Homo sapiens: one gene and its partners. The protein of the gene in region 1 purifies or fractionates together with the protein of each later gene. This does not show direct contact. Each region holds a gene or a part of one and is shown on either strand. Other genes may lie near its edges.

Region 1 (3,500 bases):
GGGCGTCCCCGGCCAGCCTTGCTGGCTCCATTTATTCAACACTCTGGCCACATTCTTATCCCCAGTGCTCTGCCAGGGCCTGACTCCAGATGGCCTCTGCCGGTGGGGCTGGATGCGTCCTCCAAGCCCTGCTTTCCAGGATCACCCGAGGGCCAGCACACTATGGATGTGGCTTCTGCCCCTTCTCCCTCTGCATCATAAGGGGTCAGCCAAGAGAGTGGGGCCTGCTTTGTTAAGGCACTGCTGTTGCCCATGCAGGGTCCAGAGGTGGCCAAATCTGGGCCCATTTGCTAGACTTGCATCCTGGGGAACTCTCTAGACCTCTTAGAGTCTCTGGTCCTCAGCTCTGAAAGGGGTGGCGAACAGTGTTGTTCGCTGACAGGTGGTTCCAGGGGTGAGAGTTAGTGTGGGAAATACTCCAGGCCTCTGATGGGTGGGAACTGAGGTTGCCGCCGCTGCTGCTGCCGGGACGGTGGGCTTCATCCCCTGTCCTCCAGTCCACCCATGTCCCCGATTGTGTCCATGTGTCTGTGTAGGTGTCAAGTAGGCCCCCGTGTGAGGCTGGCCACGCCCGTGGCCACCTGGAACTTGCCAAGTTCCCAGCCCCTCTAGGGCCAGCCAAGTCCAAGCCCTTTTCTGTGTCCAAGTTTGTTTTGGGAACTGGCATTCCCTCCACTGTGTCTGACTCATGGGGCATCTTCTGTTCCTGAAATCGGGCAGTTCTAGCTTCTAGGCCTTCGCATGTGGGGCACCCCTGCATCTATGCTCAGCCGGCTCCCAGACACAGCCTCTGCCAGGAAGCCTCACCTGGAGTTTGAGTGGAGAAAAAACACAGGGACTTTGGGGACTAAGTTTCAAATTCTGGCTGTGCCCCATCCAGTTCTGTCAGACCTTAGGCCAGTTACCTAACGTTTCTGAACCTCAGCTTAGCGGTTGTAAGAATTAAGGGAGCTCAGAGAAAAGCCTGGCGGCTTCCTGATAGAATTTAGAGGCCACCAAGGAACTCATTGGTGGCAGGACCTGCTGCAGGGGGAGGCAGCTCTGGCAGGTTTCCAGCACTTGCGGGGGTCAGAGGCTTTGCCTAGCAGCTTGGGTCCCTGTCCCTGGGAAGTTTGTAGCATATGATCATTTGACCTTTGGTGTCTGTTTTTCCACATGTCAAACAGAAATGCAAACAGTAGGCCAGGCACAGTGGCTCACGCCTGTAATCCCAGCACTTGGGAGACCAAGGCGGGCAGATCATTTGAGGTCAGGAGTTTGAGACCAGCCCGGCCAACATGGTGAAACCCCATCTCTACTAATAATACAAAAATTAGCCAGGCGTGGTGGTGTCTGCTTGTAATCCCAGTTACTCGGGAGGCTGAGGCATGAGAATCGCTTGAACCCGGGAGGCAGAAGTTGCAGTGAGCCGAGATCATGCCACTGCACTCCAGCCCAGGCGACAAAGTGAAGCTGTCTCAAAAAAAAAAGAAAAAAGAAATACAAACAGTAGTACTCGAAGAGTGGAGTAAGGGCTCGAGGGGAAGAGGGCCCTGTCTACCACTACCTCCCCAGCACCTCTCCTCCCTGCACACATCTGCCGAATCACCAAGTGCTGCAGGCCCTGCCTCCAAAGTGTCAATCAGTTTCTGCACCCTGCCCAGGCAGGGCCACCGTCAGCTCTTGCCTGGTCTCTGTAGTGGCCTTCCCAGGCCTTCCACTACCCCTCTAGCCTCCTCCAGCCCTTTCGTATCCACCAGGTAGCCTCAACAGGGTGATTTTTGTCCCCCAGGAGACATATGTCAAGATCTGGAGACCTTTTGGTTGTTACAATTCAGGGGGAAAGGGGTGCCCTGGCATCTAGTGGGTAGAAGTCATGGGTGCTGTTAGACTGTGCAGTGCCCAGGGCAGCCCCACAACCAGGAATTCTCCAGCTCCAGTGTCAGTAGTGCCACGGTTGAGAGATCCTGTGATCACACACCTGAACATGGCCCTTGGTGCCTCAGGCTGAAGGCCAGGATCTTAGCCGGCCATTCAAGACCCTTCAGATCTCTTCCCTGCCCACCTCTTCCACTGTCTTTTTCTGCCACCCCATGGTTCCCGCTGCACCTGCTGCTGTTGGGCCTCTGCTTGTGCCGTGACCTCTCTTGTCTGTCCAGTACAGTCCTGTTTGGGAGCCAGGAGCCCTTGCAGCCTGCCCTCCCGGAGGCTCTCCTTTCCTCATAGCATGGCTTATTCCCTCTTCCCCTCCTCCCACTGGGTGGACACCGGCTCATCTCTAGCCTAGGGGCTGCACTTCCCACCAAGCCGAACATCATGGAGCATTGACTGTGTGCCAGGCACTCTTGTAAGCATGTTTGTCTGTCAGAACATCCCAATGAGCCAGATAGTGTCATCGGTTTACACATGAGGTACCTGGGGCTCAGAGGGGTGAAGTGCCTTGTCCGACGACCCCTGGCCAGGGGATGTCCGAGTCAGGATTTGGGCTCTAGTAGGTTGGCTCTGAAACTCACACTTCAACCGCTGCACTCTCCTGCCTCTCTGCTCATGGGGAAATGGAGCATGGCCAGGGGACTCTAAGGATCCTCACTGTCCCCTGGAAACCTGTGTGGCTCATCCCAGTGACGAGCATTGATGTGTCAAAAGCTCTTTACAGTTTGCAAAGTACTTTCATTCCTGTTGCTGGCTAGATTGAGTTATTCATTCTGTTTTTCTTTTTCTTTTATTAAAAATCCAAATACTCAAAAATCAAAACACAAAAATGTGTTAAGTGAAAGAAGCCAGTCACAAAAAATCACGTTGTATGATTCTGTTTGATTCTATTTCTGTGAAATGTCCAGAAAAGACAAATCCATAGAGACAGAATGTAGATTAGTTGGGGGGCAGGGGATGGAGCGAGGAGATAGGACCTTACCCCACTAAAGGCTACAGGTGTTTTCAGGGTGATGAAAATACAGCCCTCCTGGGCCAGGCACAGTGGCTCATGCCTGTAATTCCTGCACATTGGGAGGCTGAGGCAGGTGAATCACTTGAGCCCAGGAGTTGGAGACCAGCCTAGAGATGGCAAACCCTGTCTACAAAAAATACAAAAATTAGCCAGGTGTGGTGGCTTGCGCCTGTAGTCCAGCTACTCGAGAGGCTGAAGTGGGAGGCTCACTTGCGCCCCAGAGGTTGAGGCTGCAGTGAGCTGTGTTAGTGCCACTACAGTCCAGCCTGGGTGGCAGATTGAGACCCTGTCTCAAAAAGAAAAAGAAAATACAGCCCTCCACCTTCGGTACCTGTGGGGAATAGGTTCCAGGATCCCCCTCAGATACCAGAATCCTCTGATTCTCAAGTTCCTGATATAAAAAGCTGTAGTATTTGTATATAAGCTACGCGCATCCTCTGTATACTTTTTTTTGTTTTGAGACGGAGTCTCGCTGTGTCGCCAGGCTGGAGTGCAGTTGTGTGATCTCGGCTCACTGCAACCTCCGCCTCCCAGGTTCAAGAGATTCTCCTACCTCAGCCTCCTGAGAGCTGGG
Region 2 (2,635 bases), on another chromosome or scaffold:
GAGCCCTGTGTGTGGAGTATATACTCAGAATCAGCACATTTCAATAAATACATGTACACCTTAATAATACATACATTTGTAGCAAAAAAATGGCTAGGTTATTATAGTACAAGCTTAAAGGGAAAAATTATTGAAAATAACACACATTTTAAAGAATAAAACACACAGCCAGGTGCGGTGGCTTACGCCTGTAATCCCAGCACTTTGGGAGGCTGAGGGGGGCGGATCACCTGAGATCAGGAGTTCAAGACCAGCCTGGGCAACATGGTGAAACCCCATCTCTACTAAAAGTACAAAAATTAGTTGTGGTGGCAGGTGTCTGTAATCCCAGCCACTTGGGAGGCCAAGGCAGGAGAATTGCTTGAACCCAGGAGGCAGAAGTTGCAGTGAGCCAAGATCGCGCCACTGCACTCTAGCCTGGGCAACAGAACAAGACTCCATCTATTAAAAAAAAAAAAAAAAAAAAAAAAAAAAGTCGGGCTCGGTGGCTCACTCCTGTAATCCCAGCACTTTGGGAGGCTGAAGTGGGTGGATCACCTGAGGTCAGGAGTTAGAGACCAGCCTGACCAACATGGAGAAACCCCATCTCTACTAAAAATACAAAATTAGCCAGGTGTGGTGGCACATGCCTGTAATCCCAGCTACTCAGGAGGCTGAGGCAGGAGAATCGCTTGAACCTGGGAGGCAGAAGTTGCAGTGAGCCAAGATCACTCCATTGCACTCCAGCCTGGGCACTAAGAGTGAAACTCTGTCTCAAAAAAAAAAAAAGAATAAGACACACAGTACTGACCTATACAGGCACCCACTCTTATGTCTGCTCTTTATTTTGCCCAGCTTCCAGATAAATTATCATCAGATAAAATCTGCTTCAGATTTACCATGCGGCCTTAAAAGCATCGCATGATACTGAATCCTTGTCTCCAATGTCTTTGACTTTAAGAGCATTTTCCCTTTTCTAATAACAGCTTAATTCACATGTATGTCTGTTGGATATTAGTCTTCATGCTGCCATGTTGAATTTCTTCTAAAAGTCTTCTTCTCTAAAAGTCTTAATGAGCAATACTATCGTATAGAGATTACTTGCTAGTAAAAAGACAGATTTGAGAATCAGACAGATGTGGATTTCCTTTTTTGGCTCTGCCACTTATGAATGCTGTTGTCCTGGGCAAGTTCCTTCTCCTCTCTGGTTTCTGTTTTCTCATCTACAAAAATGGAGGGCAAGCTTCAAGGTTACTGGGATCTCAAGTTGTGTTAGTCTGCTCAGGCTGCCATGACAAAGTACCACAGACTGGGTGGCTTAATCAAGAGAAATGTGTCCTCTCACTGTTCTGGAGGCTGGAAGTCTAAGATCAAAATGTTGCCAGGGTTGGCTTCTTTTCTTCTGAGGCTCCTCTCTGTGGCTTATAAACAGCCATCTTCTCCCTATGTCTTCACATGGTCTTCCCTCTGTACTGTCTGGGTCTAAATTTCCTCTTCCTTTAAGGACACCAGTCATATTGGATTAGGGCCCACACTAATGACCTCATTTAACTTAATTACCTCTTTAAAGACCCTGTCTCCAAATACAGTCACCTTCTGGGGTACTGGGGGTTAGGACTTCAACATAAGAATTTTGTGGGGGACAGAATTCAGCCACAGCACAAGTGTATAGTACCTGACCCACGGCAGGCTTAGTAAGCCTACTTATTGTCTACCTCACCCACATTTAAACTGCACAAACTTTTAATGGGACGCTGTGTGTCTCTGTAGACTCCCAGACACACTAAACCTATTTAAACAGACAACTCAGCATTGTGACAGGCGCACTCTGTCCTTCCTTTATTATCAGGGATGAAGCTGTTTCTTCTCTTTGCCCCAGATTCCGGATGTCATAAATCTTTAAAATGAGTCATCCTTGTGTCTCCTCTCTCCCTCCTGCCCCCACAATCTTCCAGCACTGTGCCAGGGTGCTTTCATCTATATGTGGAAATGTGCTCACCTGCTGATTGTAAACTCAGTCATTGCCTTACTCTTCAAAATTACTGGTCCCAGCGGGCTTCTCTTCCAGCCATTTTTTCCTGATTCTCCATCTCTGGCAGCAGCTGCTGTGCCTTGATTCAGAAGCTGCCCTTGTCATATCTGAGCAAGTATCCCCCAGGGCTTCACGTGACTCTCACATAGCCTTGTCCTCCTCCTCCTCTGCTGTCCGCAGCCCTGGGTGGAGGGCCTGCAGTGGGGAGCTTGTCCTGCATCAGCACCTCAGAGGGGCAGTATTCCCTCATCCCAGTGGCATCCCAGCAACAACCTGTCCCCAGGTACCGTGGCCCTTTCAGCTCACTCTTTCAGCTCTTCTCAGGTCCCGCTCTGAATGTCCCCAGAGAAGCAGCCAGAGGAGCTTGTGTCCCTGGGCAACTGAGCAGCCTCCTGAATGCTCCTTTTGCACTTGTTTTTCTCTTCCAGCTGCAGAGCCCTTGCTCCGTGAGCAAAGCCTGGGTGCCCAAGCAGCCACCGCAGCAGCAGAGTACAACCTGCAGAGAAGCTGATCACCGGGCAGAGATAGAGCGAGCATGTGTGTGTGTGTGCGCGTGTGCAGAGGAGGGAGTGGTGTGCCTGTTTGTGTGTGCATGCATCTGTTGACACTCATGATTCTGAATGT
Region 3 (3,500 bases), on another chromosome or scaffold:
TCCACCCACCTTGGCCTCCCAAAGTGCTGGGATTACAGGTATGAGCCAGTGTGCCCGGCAGTTCATGAGATTTAAGGAAAGAAGCCATCTCCATAACATAGAAGTGCAAGGTGAAGCAGCAAGTGCTGATGTAGAAGCTGCACAAGTTATCTAGAATATGGAGCTAAGATCATTGATGAAGATGGCTACAACTAGACAACAGGTTTTCAGTGTAGACAAAATGGCCTTATATTGGAAGAAGATGTCATCTAGGACAGGGGACCCCAATCCCTGGGTTTAGGAACTAGGCTGCACAGCAAGAGGTGAGTGGCAGGCAAGCAATCCATCTTCTGTCAGATCAGTGGAGGCATTAGATTCTCAAAGGAGCACGAACCTTATTGTGAACTGTGCATGCAAGGGATCTGGGTTGCGTGCTTCTTAGGAGAATCTAATGAAAAATGTAATGAGCTTGAATCATCATGAAACCATCCCCCTCCCCCACCCCATCCCCCAGTCCGTGGAAAAACTGTCTTCCACAAAACTGGTCCCTGGTGCCAAAAATGTTGGGGACTGCTGGTCAAAACTTTCATAGCTAGAGGGAGAAGTCAATGTCTGGCTTCAAAGCTTCAAAAGACAGGCTGACTCTCTCATTAGAAGCTAATGCAGTTGGTAACTTGAAGTTGAAGCCAATGCTGACTTACCATTCTGAATGTCCCAGGGCTCTTAAGAATGATACTAAGTCTACTCTCTCAGTGCTCTACACAACAAAGCCTGGATGACAGCACATCTGTTTACAGTATGATCTACTGAATATTTTAAGACCATTGTTGAGACCCACTGCTCAGGAAAAAGATTCCTTTCAAAATATTACTGCTCAATTACAATGCCCCTGGTCACCCAAAAGCTCTGATAGAGATGTACAAAGACATAAATGTTGTTTTCATGCCTGCTAACACAACATTCATTCTGCAGCACATGGATCAATGAGTAATTTCAACTTTCAAGTCTTATTACTTAAGGAATACCCTTTGTAAGGCTATAGCTGCCATAGATACTGATTGCTCTGATGTATCCAGGAAAAGTGGAAAAGTAAATCAAAAACCTTCTGGAAAGGATTCACCATTCTAAATACCATTAAGAACGGTCATGATTCATGGGAGGAGATCAAAATATTAACATTAACAGGAGTTTGGAAGAAGTTGATCCCAACTCTCATAGATGACTTTGAGAGGTTCAAGACTCCCATGGAGGAGTAATTGCAGATCCGGTGGAAATAGCAAGAGAACTAGAGTTACAAGCGGAGCCTGAAGATGTGACTGAATTGCTGCAATCTCATGATAAAACTAACAGATGAGGAGTTGCTTATTATGGATGAAAAAATAAAGACTCATTTCTTGAGATGGAATCTACTCCTGCTGAAGATGCTCTAAACACTGTTGAAAGGACAACAAACAATTTAGAATATTACATAACTTAGTTGATAAAACAGTGGCAGGGTTTGAGAAGACTGACTACAATTTTGAAAGTTCTACTATGGGGAAAGTGCTATCAAACAGCAACACATGCTCTAGAGAAATCTTTGGTGAAAGGAAGAGTCAGTTGATGCAGCAAACTTCATTACTGTCTTATTTTAAGAAACTGCCACAGCTACCCAAACATGCAGTAACTGCCACCCTGATCAGTCACCAGCCATCAACACTAAGGCAAGAACCTCCAGCAGCAGAAAGAGTATGACTTGCTGAAGGCTCAGATGATCATCAGCATTTTTTAGCAATAAAGTATTTTAATTAAGGTATGTACATTGTTTTCTTAGACAATGCTATTGCACACTTAATAGACTACAGTATAGTTTAAGCATAATTTTTATATGCACCCAGAAACCAAAAAATTCAAGTGACTCACTTTATTGTAATACTCACTTTATGGTGGTGGTCTGGAATCAAACCCACAATTTGTCTCCAAGGTATGCCAGTAGATACTGTCTTCATTGTGGATGAACTTACTGTCTTACAGAAGATACACTCACAAAACCAAGAATACACCAAAAATGCTGCCATCAATTGGTTCAATAAAGGAAGTGTTGGTCAGGAAGGAAAAAGTATGATGTTGCTAGCACTACTGAGAAAGACTTTGTAGAGAAGCAGGACTTAGAGAAGTGGTACCTGGTGTTAACACTCTTGGAGTCAGCTCATTTAAACCAACTTGGGAAGTATACTTTTACAAAAATGTTTTAACAAAACCTGACTCTGATTGTATTACAGATATGTGATTGTTAATTTTATGTGTCTACTTGATTGGTCTACTGGGGTGCCCAGATATCTTGTTAAACATTATTTCTGGCTGTACCTGTGGGTGTTTCTGGAGGAAATCAGCATTGAATTGATGGACTGAGTAAAGGAAAAGGCCCTCCCCAATGTGGGTGGGCATTATCCAACCAGTAGAAGGCCCAAATGGAACAAAAAGGTGAAGAAAGATTGAATTCTCTCTGTCTCTCTCTCTGTCTCTCTCTTTCTCTCTCTCTCTCTCTAGCTGCTTAGCTAATACATCTATATTTTCCTGACCTTATACTAGAACTTATACCATTGGTTCTCCTGGGTCTCCATCTTGGAGACAGCAGATCATGGGACTTCTCAGCCTCCATAATCATGTAAGACAATTCCTTGTAATAAATCTCTTTTTTTCTATGTATATTCTATTGGTTCTGGTTCTCTGGTTCTCTCACTAATACAAGGTATATGTGAATAATTAATACCATCTGGTAAAATGAAAAGTCCAAAGAAAATGAAGATACTTAAGTATCTCTGGCACAAAACGTATAAAGGTATTTGCTAATATGCCGGTATGCTTAATTAAAGGGCCCTGCGATTTGGTCCCTTTATGGATAACTCACAGTACCTAAACAGCAGCATGCTTCACACTGAAATTACTCAGAAAAAGGCTGGTAGAGATAACAACCAGGGATGAACAATCAAAACAGTTCGATCTTGTAACGCTAGTGAATCCTGGAATGAAAAATACCTGTAAGAAAAATCAAACAAGCAAATCAGGCCACATGAGTTAAAACACATGTCACATTGAGGCAAGGGCAGAGCCACTTCTAACTGGAAAAACAGGAAATGCTATGTGTATACTGAACACTAGGCCCCTTTCTCACACACACACACACACCTGCACACACTAGCTCCATGACAAGTGTGGCACTTTCACTGCTTCCATGGAAAATTCATTTGAAGTCAATTTCCAAATAATACAGGCAGACCACAGATATTCTCTGGCACTACCTAAAAGAACATTTCAACTACCCACAAAATATATATTTATATGACTGTACTACTCTCCACCAATAAGAGAGGAACATACAGATTCACTAAGAAGAACTAGAAAAAAAAATCTTCATTAAATTAAGGAACTAAGTTACTAGGCAGGCAGTCTATCCCCGCAAAAACTGTGGCCACTTTACCAAAACATTATAAAACGGTTTATGGTTACACACCCGGGTGCATGTTGCAGGTTGGAACAAA
Region 4 (4,084 bases), on another chromosome or scaffold:
TTTGAAAGCCACATACACAATGCAACACACCTTCTTGCAATCTCAATGAAAGAAAGCCGGCATGCTCAACAGTCAAACAACCAAGTAACTGAAGCAAGATAATGTATACATTTTAAAGGCACGTTGGAGAAGCTGTTTTCACTATAAGTTGCATTGGTAGGGCAAGGCACAGAGTTTAATACTGAATGGGGCTTGTTTTAGTGACAACCCCCCACTTCTCCTGCCCTCTTTCTCTTCTTCCTCCTGCCTTCTTTCATTTTTCCCCTCCTTTCCGCCTATTTAAGTTCTATGCTTTCCTGAAGGATCAATGTAGTTTCTTCATAAATATAGTTAATGCAAAGAATTGCTTTTATTGAAGAATTATGCTCTTATATGAAAATGTGCTTCCTTTTATAAAATAATATTAGGTAGTTTTAAAAATTGTCTTCTTTGGGCAAAGTAAGAAATTAGTAATCTTGGGGTTTCCTCTATTTTTTTTTAATCTTACGCATCCAAGAACAGGAATCACTTGCCCAGAATATAGAGAAGAGAGATGAGATAAACAGCAAAGTACACTATATAACACCTAACAAGTTGATTCAAGTTGAACAAGTTAAGCTCCATAATATATTTTCTACGGGAGGGAGGGGGCAAATTAGCAGGTGTGCCTTAGTCTCCTTTGGGAGTCAGGGAAGGCTTCACTGAGGAGATAACGTTTGAGCTGGAGTTTGAAGGATTAGCAGGGGAGAAATGGCAGGGCATTCCAAGCAGGGTGCCTATGAGCAAAAGGCGCAAAGCACAAAAGAGTACGACGTGTCCAGCAGCTCTGAGTAGGCGAGTGGCTGCAGCGTAGGGTTCTTGGAGTTAGGTGATCAAGGGTGAGGAAGGGACTATTTTCCCTGCTTGGACGATTTCTCCTACACCTCATTGCACGGTGCTGGGCACACACTGCAGGAGCTCAATAAATACTTGTTGAATTGGGACAGAATGAAAGAGTGCGCTGGGAACCAGGGCATCTGGATGTTTTCTCACGCACCCGCAGTGTGACCTTGGCCAAGTCCCTTTTCTGGGACTGCGGTTCCTGCTTAGTAGTCGAGTACGAGTGAGAAAGCGGAGGAGGAGGTTGGCCAGAGGCGCCTAGCCTTTCTAGCGGCCTGAATCCCTGATTCGATGCGTAGAGGGCGGGGCGGGCCGCTTGGGGCCGCGGCGGGCGGAGGTTCAGTTCCTCCTCCGGTCCAGCAGGGGGCACGGGGAGTGGCTTCCCGCCGCCCTTCCCCTCCTTGCGGGCGCCGGGCAGACTGCTGCAGTCGCAAGCGGCGAGCGCAGTGGGCGGGGCGGGCCTGGCCGGGCCGGGCGGCGGCGCTGCGCTGACGGGCTGAGTCTGGCGGCGGCGGAAGCTGCAGAGGCCACCGGGGCGCTAACTGGGTGGCCGGTGGGCCGCTGTGGCCTCGAGCAGCCTCTTCGCGCGGCCCCGCACCCCGGCAAGCAGCAGCGGGCCGCGACGCCCAGCCTGCCAGTGAGCTGCGACGGGCACACCCCGGAGCGTCGGCGACTGCGGACAGGTTAGAGTGGGGGCAGGGGCGGGCGCGGGAGCAGCCCAGGGCCAGAGAGGGAGCCCGAGCCAGGCCATCTCCAACCATGTCCGACGAGGCCTCGGCCATCACTTCCTACGAGAAGTTTCTAACCCCCGAGGAGCCCTTCCCACTCCTGGGACCTCCTCGCGGGGTGGGCACCTGCCCGAGCGAGGAGCCGGGCTGCCTGGACATCAGCGACTTCGGCTGCCAGCTGTCCTCCTGCCATCGCACCGACCCGCTCCACCGCTTCCACACCAACAGGTACGAACTGCACCTGAGGGCAGGGGTGGATTTTCCACTTCTGGTCGCCCCCCGCTCCTGATCCTTCGTCCCGGGCTGCGCTTCCAGTCGCCCCCTCCCCCACCTGCTTTCGACCAGCGCTCATTCCCGGCCTCCTTCCCTGCCCCCCCTCCCTATTTTCACCCCTGCCCTCCTATTTTCCTTTCGACCGGCGTTTTACTCTCTTTTCCTCATTCATATTCTGGCTATAGCGACTCCTCCCTTCCCTACCTTCTCCCTCCCTTGCTTCCCTTCCCTCCCCCCATCTGTACCCTACGAATCCCAAACCCCCACCCTTGATTTTTAGATACGCCCCTGTTTGCATCCATCTGCAAAAGTTTAACCCCTTCCATTTCCGGTACGCTGTAGAGGAATTTGGATGGCTCAAGATCAATCCATAGATCTTTTGAAAAGTGGCGTTGAAAGGTGGAACATTTAAAGCTAGAAGCTTCATTTTCCCTATTTTTAATCTGTCTCACAGTCCTGTTCCCCCCGCCGCCACCACCCCTACCCCATTTTTTTTTTTAGTTGAGCGCTAGGAAACTAGTCGATTCTCTCTTTTTTTCCTCCTCCTTTATTAACTGTTTGCCTTAGCGCTTTAGGCTCTGCCAAAATTGGTAAGCTTAAATCTGGAGGATTCCTTCATATGACATATCCCTTGGTTTCCTTCCCCTTTGAAGAGACAGAGTAAGGCTTAGGATGGACTGACTTACACAAATTTATTCAGAGGGTGTATCTCCTCCTAACTGATTTCAGTAGAAGGTAGTGTTCTGGAGACTTCTCTCATGCAAGCATTTACGTGTTAGATCAAATCTTGGGGGGTGGGTTGAAGACGTTCTAGATACAGCCTCAAGTTTTAACATAGGTGGATATTTGAGATACATATACAAAGGGCTGGGGGGGTGTGTGGTTAAGGCTCTAGGAGAGGGGTTCAGCTATGGAAAATACTGGAGATAAATTAAGAAATCTAGTTCTGACTTCTGATCCAAGTTTATGATGTGAGTTTGATCAAATTCTTCCATATTTTAATGTCTTTAGCATATTTCTCCCCTCCCTTCCCTTAAATCAGTCTGTAGATTGAATGAGCTTCTACCAGATACAAGGAATGTGTAAAAGATGTTTCTTACATAAATGAAAGTTATAGTCTATGGAAACAAGGTGTTATAGTTAAATAATCAGAATATCAGTATAACACATCTCAAAAGGAAGTGGCAGTAAATTTATTATGACTACTCTAAATCGTCATTGCAAAAAATGAAGAAACAGGCCCAGAAAGAAAAGATTGAGTTCAAGGTCATAAAACCTAGTCAAGCAAATCCAAGACTATTCCTTTGAAGCCAATGATTAAACTTGGAGCAGAACTAATTGATCCAGTGTTACAAATAGAACTTATGGTTTCCTAGACCAACTCACAGAAGCCTATTTAACCCCTGATGTCACTGTAATGTGAATGTAACATATTCATGAAATCAAGTGTGCTTAGGGTTATTTATGTTGAAAAATAATGTAAAAGAATACCTTTGTACATATTTGGCATTTAAGTTTTGCAGCCTTGGAGCAAGTCACATACCCAGGAAAGTTAAATAATTTCAGAATGATCCTGCTGTGATGATGAGGGCAAGGGAGTGAGGGCAGAGGCTGTGGGTAAGTACTGCCAAAACTGGGTAGAGGTGATGGGGAGTGAAGTTATGAGAATAATATGTTTCTTACAACTTGTTCTGTTCCTTCCTCCTCCCCGTTTTTTCCTGTGTTTTCTTTCCCTTAAAGACTGTGGTGAGGTCAGGACTGTTTTTCAATGGGGCAGTGAGGAGGGGAGAAGGAGGTTCTTTGCAAGCCCCAGTTTTTCCAAGTCAAGCATTTTTCCTAGTTACTGCTTGCTTTTTTTTTTTTTTTTTTTAACTTCCCTCTCCTACCCTACTTTTCGCAAGGCTTGGCATGGTGGCAGGGGTTCTAATGCTCTGTATCCTTTTCAGCAGAGAGTAGGGGAAGCAAAATTAGCGATATTCACAGCACATGATGTTTCTGTCCTAGGCTACCTTGCCTTTTAAATGTATTATCCTTCTGCAATGTTCTGCTTTCTTACCCCTCCTCAAGATGGTGCTTGAGAGGACCATAGGCTTCCAGCCATTTCTTTTCAGGGAGAAGCACACAGCTAAATCATATATCGGGCAAAGTTTAGGGAGTTCTTTTATTTTGGAGTTGTATGTGTCACTTTTTTCCTTCACATCACATCATTTGTCAATTCAGGCAAC

The links. Proteins that work in one complex are often made in the same cells at the same time.
Region 2: the proteins of CSNK1E (region 1) and CRY2 purify together in Homo sapiens (co-immunoprecipitation; 4 studies listed by BioGRID and IntAct, with this or other methods). This does not show direct contact.
Region 3: the proteins of CSNK1E (region 1) and FAM110B purify together in Homo sapiens (affinity purification with mass spectrometry; 4 studies listed by BioGRID and IntAct, with this or other methods). This does not show direct contact.
Region 4: the proteins of CSNK1E (region 1) and FAM199X purify together in Homo sapiens (affinity purification with mass spectrometry; 4 studies listed by BioGRID and IntAct, with this or other methods). This does not show direct contact.

Annotation. Positions count from the first base shown.
Region 1 is NC_000022.11:38,307,434-38,310,933, reverse strand, and holds part of CSNK1E (casein kinase I), read left to right. Parts: intron 1-3,500.
Region 2 is NC_000011.10:45,878,475-45,881,109, forward strand, and holds part of CRY2 (cryptochrome-2), read left to right. Parts: intron 1-2,439; 3' UTR 2,440-2,635. UniProt on the Homo sapiens protein: Transcriptional repressor which forms a core component of the circadian clock.
Region 3 is NC_000008.11:58,001,023-58,004,522, reverse strand, and holds part of FAM110B (protein FAM110B), read right to left. Parts: intron 1-3,500. UniProt on the Homo sapiens protein: May be involved in tumor progression.
Region 4 is NC_000023.11:104,165,169-104,169,252, forward strand, and holds the start of FAM199X (protein FAM199X), read left to right. Parts: upstream 1-1,284; 5' UTR 1,285-1,617; coding exon 1,618-1,814; intron 1,815-4,084.